3 separate regions of the Homo sapiens genome follow, and regions 1 and 3 are each linked to region 2. The links come from fine-mapping of genetic effects on gene expression. A gene starts in region 2. Each other region holds a variant in brackets. All regions are shown on one strand. Distances are between the middles of the regions. Region 1 overlaps C5 (complement C5). Region 2 holds the start of C5 (complement C5). Region 3 overlaps CNTRL (centriolin).

What was found. PIP is the estimated chance that this variant, and not a neighbour inherited with it, causes the effect.
Region 1: its variant is the best candidate, but not a certain one, in a credible set for the expression of C5 in whole blood (INTERVAL, PIP 0.68).
Region 3: its variant is the best candidate, but not a certain one, in a credible set for the expression of C5 in monocytes (Fairfax 2014, PIP 0.60).

The regions. Positions count from the first base shown.
Region 1 is chr9:121,012,213-121,014,712 of GRCh38, reverse strand. C5 (complement C5) reads left to right here. Exons shown (of 41, transcript NM_001735.3): 17 at 643-840. Among named protein-coding and RNA genes, the nearest start is that of C5, 37 kb to the left of the region's middle. The variant C/T (reference allele first, on the strand shown) is at 1,478.
Region 2 is chr9:121,049,024-121,051,523 of GRCh38, reverse strand. C5 (complement C5) reads left to right here and starts at 1,249. Exons shown (of 41, transcript NM_001735.3): 1 at 1,249-1,342. The coding sequence starts at 1,278.
Region 3 is chr9:121,106,355-121,109,215 of GRCh38, reverse strand. CNTRL (centriolin) reads right to left here. Exons shown (of 44, transcript NM_007018.6): 8 at 1,221-1,414. Among named protein-coding and RNA genes, the nearest start is that of CNTRL, 33 kb to the right of the region's middle. The variant C/T (reference allele first, on the strand shown) is at 1,158.

The DNA.
Region 1 (2,500 bases), 37 kb after region 2:
AAGAATATCAAACTGGGAGTCAGCAAATTGAGTTCAACTAATATCATGCCTATGGTAATATAATAGTTTCTTCCATTTGTATATGAGTTATTTTAATTCTAACCTTTATTCTAAGTTCTAATGATATGAAAAGAGAGACATTGACTAATCTGAGCACTTACAATGAAGGATAATGCTACTAGGTGAAGTCCACAAACCATGTTATATAAGAAGTTTTTGAAAAATAGGATATTCAGCTTGAAGAAGGAAATATTTGTATAGTGATGATAGCCATCTTCAAATATTTGAAGGCTTCTTGGATATTTAACTTATTTTCTTAAAAAACATTTTCTATTCTTTTTCTATATTTTTCTGCATATTTTCAGCAGAACCCAAAGTTCCAGTTTCAAGAGTTAGTATTTAGCTTAATTGCAGGAAACCCTTTAACCATTTAGTGTGAGCTGGAATGGACCATTTGGTAAGGTCACATTCTCCCCATTCTTAGAATAGTTCCAAGGGGAGTCTGGACAGTCAACTAGCCATAACTATTGTGGGTAGGGGGATCATATAGCAACAGAAACCAGGTATCCCTTGAGATTCCTTCTAAGCCTGAGATGTTATCACTCTGCGTCATCAAGAGCACTTGCATTATTACCATTTCAGCTGCTAAATATAAACATTCAGTAGTGAAGAAATGTTGTTACGATGGAGCCTGCGTTAATAATGATGAAACCTGTGAGCAGCGAGCTGCACGGATTAGTTTAGGGCCAAGATGCATCAAAGCTTTCACTGAATGTTGTGTCGTCGCAAGCCAGCTCCGTGCTAATATCTCTCATAAAGACATGCAATTGGGAAGGCTACGTAAGTATGACATTTTCTATCAGAATTCTGCTCAATATGGGGAATTTTGTGTAATTTTATGCTGCTAAGAAAGGCAGTTTTCATGATCTATTTAGAATTGAAAGTAGAAAAGATAACTTGTAAATGTCCATAAGAAAAAAAAATCCTTCATTTTTGGGCATCCGAAGAGGTACAGTACAGAGCAGAGTACACTAGGCCAGAGTTAAGACCTGGCATAACCTTAAAGCCAAGTCATCCCATAAACTTGAATGATTATTTATCCTCTCTGAGCCTCATGCAAGGAGCTTCGACCAGATCCTCTCCAATATGCCTGTGAGTTCTACAAGTCTACGCTTTTGTGATATTACAACCATTAAAAATTCTGTCTATATCTACATTGATGAAATAAAGCAGAATATTTCTAAATCTAGCCTAAGGTTAAGTGTACTTATATAAAAGCTGATGTCTTATTTCAGTTTCAACCACAATACATGTTTCCAGAATTTATAGAACTCTCATTAACATGTTTTCAGAACTTTTAGGACTTTATATATAGTCTTTTTTTTTTTTTTTTTCAGTAGGAATCTGGCTCTGTCACCCAGGCTGGAGTGCAGTGGTGCAATCTTGGCTTACTGCAACCTCTGCCTCTGGGTTCAAG[C/T]GATTCTCCTGCCTCAGCCTCCTGAGTAACTGGGATTAAAGGCGCCTGCCACCACACCTGGTTAATTTTTGTATTTTTAGTAGGGACAGGGTTTCACCATATTGGCCAGGCTGGTCTTGAACTCCTGACCTCAGGTGATCCGTCCACCTCGGCCTCCCAAAGTGCTGAGATTACAGGCGTGAGCCACTGTGCCCAGCCTATGTATAGTCTTTAACAAAACAAGCAAAAGCAAAATGACAGCTTCTGTTTTATACTTATGTGTGCTGCGTAATGACATTTTCATCAATGATGGACCACATGTGCAACGGTGATCCTATAGGATTATAATACCGTATTTTTTCTGTACCTTTCCTGTGTTTAGATATGCTTAGATACACAAATACTTATCATTGCATTACAGTTGTCTGCAGTATTCTGTTCAGTAACATGCTGTACAGGTTTGTAGCCTAGGAGAAATAGGCTATACTATATAGTCTAGATCTGTAGTAAGTTATACCATCTAGATTAGTGTAAGTACGCTCCATGATGGTTACACAACAAAATCATCTAACAACATATTTCTCAGAACATAGCCCTATTGTTAAGCAATATCTAATAACCATAATTTTGGTAAATGGCCACAAAATTTATGTTTGTAGAAATATATTCATTGAGATGTACAGTGTCTAAGATTCAGATTGTTTTCCAATATTTGTTTTGCTTTGTTTGTTTGTTTGTTTGAGAGACAGAGTTTTGTTTTTGTTGCCCAGGCTGGAGTGCAATGGCGCAGTCTCAGCTCACTGCAACCTCCGCCTCCCGGGTTCAAGCAATTCTCCTGCCTCAGCCTCCCAAGTAGCTGGGATTACATGCACCTGCCACCATGCCTGGCTAATAATATTTGCTTATTATAAGCAGAATTTTAATAAACAGTCTAGTCCATATGTTGTTTTTCTTTTTGGAGGGAGGATTTGGCTTTTTTTTCTCTTAATTTTTTTTAATTTTTAAATTTATGTGGGTAAATAGTATTTACGGGGTACACGAGAT
Region 2 (2,500 bases):
TTATATATTAAGGTAAAAATAGTACTAAAAAAGAGAAGGTAGTAAATAAAAAAATTCTAATGAACATAAAACATCATAAAAATTAACTTAATTAAAAATCAGCCAGGCACAGTGGCTCATGCCTGTAATCCCAGTACTTTGGGAGGCCAAGGTGGGTGGATCACCTGAGGTCAGGAGTTCGAGACCAGCCTGGCCAACACGGTGAAACCCTACCTCTACTAAAAATACAAAAAATTAGCTGGATGTGATGGGACATGCCTGTAGTCCCAGCTACTTGGGAGGCTGAGGCAGGAGAATGCCTTGAACCTGGGAGGCAGAGGTTGCCCTGAGCCAAGATAGTGCCACTAGACTCCAGCCTGGGCGACAGAAAGAGACTCTGTCTCCAAAAAAAAAAAAAAAAGTATAAAGATAAAATTTTAGTATATTGTGAATTAATTACTAGACTCAATTGTTATAGGAAGCTTTGTTTTTCTGGAGCTCTTATATTAAAATTATTAAAATCCTCACTGAAAAGTATAACATGTGTTTTCTTTAAAAGAAAGATATTCTATATCTGAATAAAGACAAACTTTGAACGAGTGGTATATGCCTTAATAAATATTGGAGAATATCTATTCTCCAATACTTAGAGAATGACGACAGCATCCTCCACATGGCGTTTTCATTGCCAGTCACAACTTTCCTCCACCTAGTGTTCTCTAGACTGAGACAGACCAAGGAACAATTCCCTAGACCTCCTTTGCAGAGCTAGGTTATGCTCAGACCATTTGCAGCACCAAGGACACTGCCATTCAGGTCACCAAAAAAAGATCATCTTGTGAGCCCTGTCTAAACCAGGCCCCTTCTAAAATCATTTCAGTGTGAAACTGAGTCCAGGTGGGTCTTCATCAGTATTAGAGTGGACCTGCCAGATGTATGCTTGCAGATGATGCAACATCAAAGCAAATGCCCTGGGCAAGAGAAGAAAGGCCAAAGCAATGGGCTTACTGGTTTCTAGCTTTGAGCCACTCTTCATAGTGCCAAATTCCCATTTTAGGGTCCCTTTATTTGTATTAATAAAAATAAATTCCCTGGGTGTAAGTTCCTGTAAAGTACTCCCTATCTGTATTCCTGGGCATGAAAGGGTGTTTTAGTTCCAATTCTAGTTTTCCCACTTAGAGGTTCACCTTTCTGACATTAATAATTAACCAGATTATCTGAATTCTTCAAGTTCAGTTTATTTAAAAGGAGACTATCCTCAAAAGTGTTATATCCGTGGTTTCCTGCTACCTCCAACCATGGGCCTTTTGGGAATACTTTGTTTTTTAATCTTCCTGGGGAAAACCTGGGGACAGGAGCAAACGTAAGTAAAACAAGCTATCTTCATTTTTCAATGCATCTTAGTTATGACGAATGAAGAGTTAAATTTAACAGATTCTGTTAACTTGAAAATAACTTGCTACTTCTGAGAACAGCAAGTGAATAGTATCATCTCTGAATGAGAAAGTCATGGAAGCATTTTGATTTGATGAGTAGCTAACAACATGACAGCTTTTATGGAATTGTTATTTATTAAAATTTACGTTAAGTGATTATTCAAATTCCTCTTCAAAAAAGCACAAAAGAAACTCCAGATAATAAACTTTCTTGACATTTTTTGCTTATTTTAACTTGGTGTTTAGTTTTCTTTGTGTTTTTCATAGACTATACACAGTTAAACCAGGGTTATTTAGGAGTCAATCTAATACTGTGATCTGAAAATCTGTTGTTGTAGTGACTTCTACCATACATTTATGAGCTGACTTTTCACAATTTTTAGTGTCATTATTGAGATAATATGCATTTTAAGTAATGTTTTAAAAATAATGATCTTATATCTAGAAATATTTTAATACTGAAAAGTAACTGCAGATCATCTAATCAAACCTATTCATTTTATATATGAGAATAAGTCCAGATAAGGGAAGTGACTGACCAAAGGTCACAGTTCTAGAGAGAGAGAAACAGGATTTTTATTAAGGTCTCCTGTTTATCACTTCAATTTTTTTCATTTTGTCATAAATGTATACATGTAAATATATTATATATAAACACATACTTAGGATGTCATTCTTTTTTAGCACCCTCGTATTTCTGATCTGTGATCTTTTTACATGGCCACAAGCACTCAACTACCTTAGCATCCTGCCTTTATTCTTTTTGAAAGACGAGCAGCTAAGGCTTAGAGAGACTGAAATTAAGTGACTTCAAATTGGTGGCAGAACTAGGGCTAGGACCTGGGTTCCATGATTCTTGTCCAGACTTATTCTGAATTCTTTCTACTAGCCCTTAATAAAAATTATTTCCTCACTTTCTCTGAAGAAGTCAGAGTGTACCATTTACAACATGGCAATCAATCACTTTAATTAATTGGTTGATTGATTGATTCAACAAATATTTATTGAGCATCTAAACATATGATAGGCACTGCAGATATAGCAAACGGTAAGACAATTCCTAGAGCTTGCATTCTAGTGGGAGA
Region 3 (2,861 bases), 58 kb before region 2:
ATATAATATTTATTAGCATTGACAATGTCTTAGGTATTATAAGTAATCTAGCAATGATTTTAAAGTATACTAGAGGATGTACGAAAGTCACTTGCAAATACTACACCATTTTACATAAAGGACTTGAGCATCCATGGATTTTGGTATCCATGGGGGTGTCCTGGAACCAATCCCCCACAGATACAGAGGAATAACTGTATACAGTAACATTCCTTTTTTCATTACAAAAATATTCAAAGGTATAACATGCTTAATTATATATACATTATGTAATTACATGTATACTGTATAAGAAGCATGGAAAACAAAGTATTAATATCTGGGGAATGGGGTAGGGAAGAGTGGACTTTCATTTCTGCTAAATACAGTTGTGTTGTCTAAATTTGTTACAATGAACATACATTAATTTTGTATATAAATGTGTTTTTATTTTATTTTTATTTTTGTAGAGACAGGGTCTCATTATGTTGCCCAGGCTGATGTTGAATTTCTGACCTCAAGTGATCCTTGCACCTCAGCATCCCAAAGTGTTGGGATTAAAGGCATGAGCGATGGCGCCTGGCATAAACATGTTTTTAAATGGTTAATGATAAAAATAACATAATGACATAGAGAAGAGCACAGTCTGACTTCTAACAAAAATAGGTATAGAAAAAAAAAGCAAAAACTTCTGACAGTTTACAAAACATTTATTGACAGCACAAACATATCAATAACATTATAAATAAGCAAAAGAGAAAACTAGGCAACTACAGTTCATAGTTTTGGGATAGTGGAAAGTCTTAAGGTCTGACATTTTGCCAAGGTTTTCAATGGGCTGAGTAACGTGCACCAGGGAATCAGCATAAAGATATTATATTTTATCTTAGTAATAAAAGATGGATTCCATGTCCAAAAAGACCTATAACTCACAAAATTTTGGATAATTTTGCCAGATCGCCTTCTAAATGTTTTTGCCAATGAACAGCCTCACCTACAATGTTGTTTTTAAAAAATACAAATATCTAGGAGTACATAATGCAGCTCAAGACAGCATTAGTCTTTTGGGAAGCCATATCATCTAGCACACAGTCAACTACAATTCATAAGCCTTTCCACATATTTCTGTTAAACCACATCTTCCCCATTATATGGTCAGGAAGTTGTATTTTTAGACC[C/T]AAGGGCAAAGAATTATCTGTCTTATGAGAATACAGCCAAAGCAATGTAAAATATGAACTTACCAATTCATTTTTTGTGTTTAAGTCACTCTTGAGTTCCTCACAGCTCTGTTTCTGTAACATGGCCTCCTCTTTTAATGATTTATTCAATTTATCTTGATTTTTAATTTCCTCAAGGAACCTTGTTTGTTTGCTCTTAAGCTCTTCAGTTTCTATCATCTTTTTTTCTAGGTCTCTTTCCAGTCTTTCTACCTCTTCTGCCAATGAAAATTTAATAGTTTATTTATCATTATATTTCCTATTTTTAAAAAGGTAAGAATATTTCTCAAACAATAGTGAAAAAAGTCTAAAAATATTGTAAATACAATTCTACTTTTAAAATTAGCCACCATGGTTTTGGAAAAAAAGACTATCCTGATCTTGAAATTGAGGCAAGAAGGCATCATTTCAATGATATTTTTAAAAGATAATACTTTACTTCCAAGTATTTAATCCAATTAGTGTGCTGATAAATGAGTTCTTTTCTAGGTGACCTTTGAAAAACATGCAATATTTTATCAGACATTAGTAATTACATTTAAAAGGATGCTGCAAACATGTTTGCAAAATTCTGTATTATCTTAAAATCCTTCAACAGCTTCCTGTTACTCTTAGGATAAGATCCAAAAGGCTTGCGAAAAGCTGATAAAGTTCTTCATAATTTGGACTCAACCTCCCTCTTCTGCCTCATCTTCAAGCATACTCTACTGCAGCTTTCTTAAAGTTATCCCATTTCTTCAGATTTGTGATGCCTCTTCTCACCTATAGGCTTTTATTCACACACTTTCCCTAGAACTGTCTTCCTCTACCTCCTACTGGGCTATTTTGCATCCTACAGGTCTTAAGTTTTAAAAAAAAATTTTGAGAAGCCTGCCCAGGCCCTATCCTGTCACCAGGTTAGATGATTCTGAGGTATACTCCCATGCTACCCTGAAATTCTGCTTGGCCCTTGTCACACAGGGAGTAGTAAAATGTGATCAAATAGCTTAGCTGTCTGCCTTTCCCCACTAAAGCGTCACAAAAGCAGAAACTACATCTACCTGGCTCACCTAGACTAGATCTAATAGCCTAGCACATTAAAGTCTCCTAATTAATATCTGAAGGCATGAAGGAACCATAAGTAGTCTAACCATTTCACCCAAAAGTTATCTAGATGACTTTCCTTTGCATTATTAATATTTTTAATGATTCCAAAACATAAACTTCAGAATAATAAATATTGAGTTAGGGAGATTCCAAACTAATAAAAACTTGCCATGTTTCTCAAGTTGGATCAAACCATATGAAATTGCCATTTTTGGAGGTCAAAACAGACTAAAACTAATTTCAAATGAACAGACAGGCTCATTTCCCAACACTCTAAATTGGCTATTTGATACCTTCCTCTTTCTTCTCAAACTTCCCATACACTTTCTTCTATTTTCTCTCTCACCTGATTATCTCACCTTTAATTAAGAAAATGACCCCATCAATAAGAACTCCCTATTTTCCCACCACCACAGCAACAAAACTACCCACACCTGCACATATCTTTGCTCCTTTCTGAAGGAGAAAGTGTCACTCCTACCAAGGGATTTTTCCTTTTTTTCTCTAATCTCATTCTCATGTCTTCTCCAGAACCAAAAGAATTGAGCCATGTCTTGTTTCTCCACTTTGCTTTTAGGT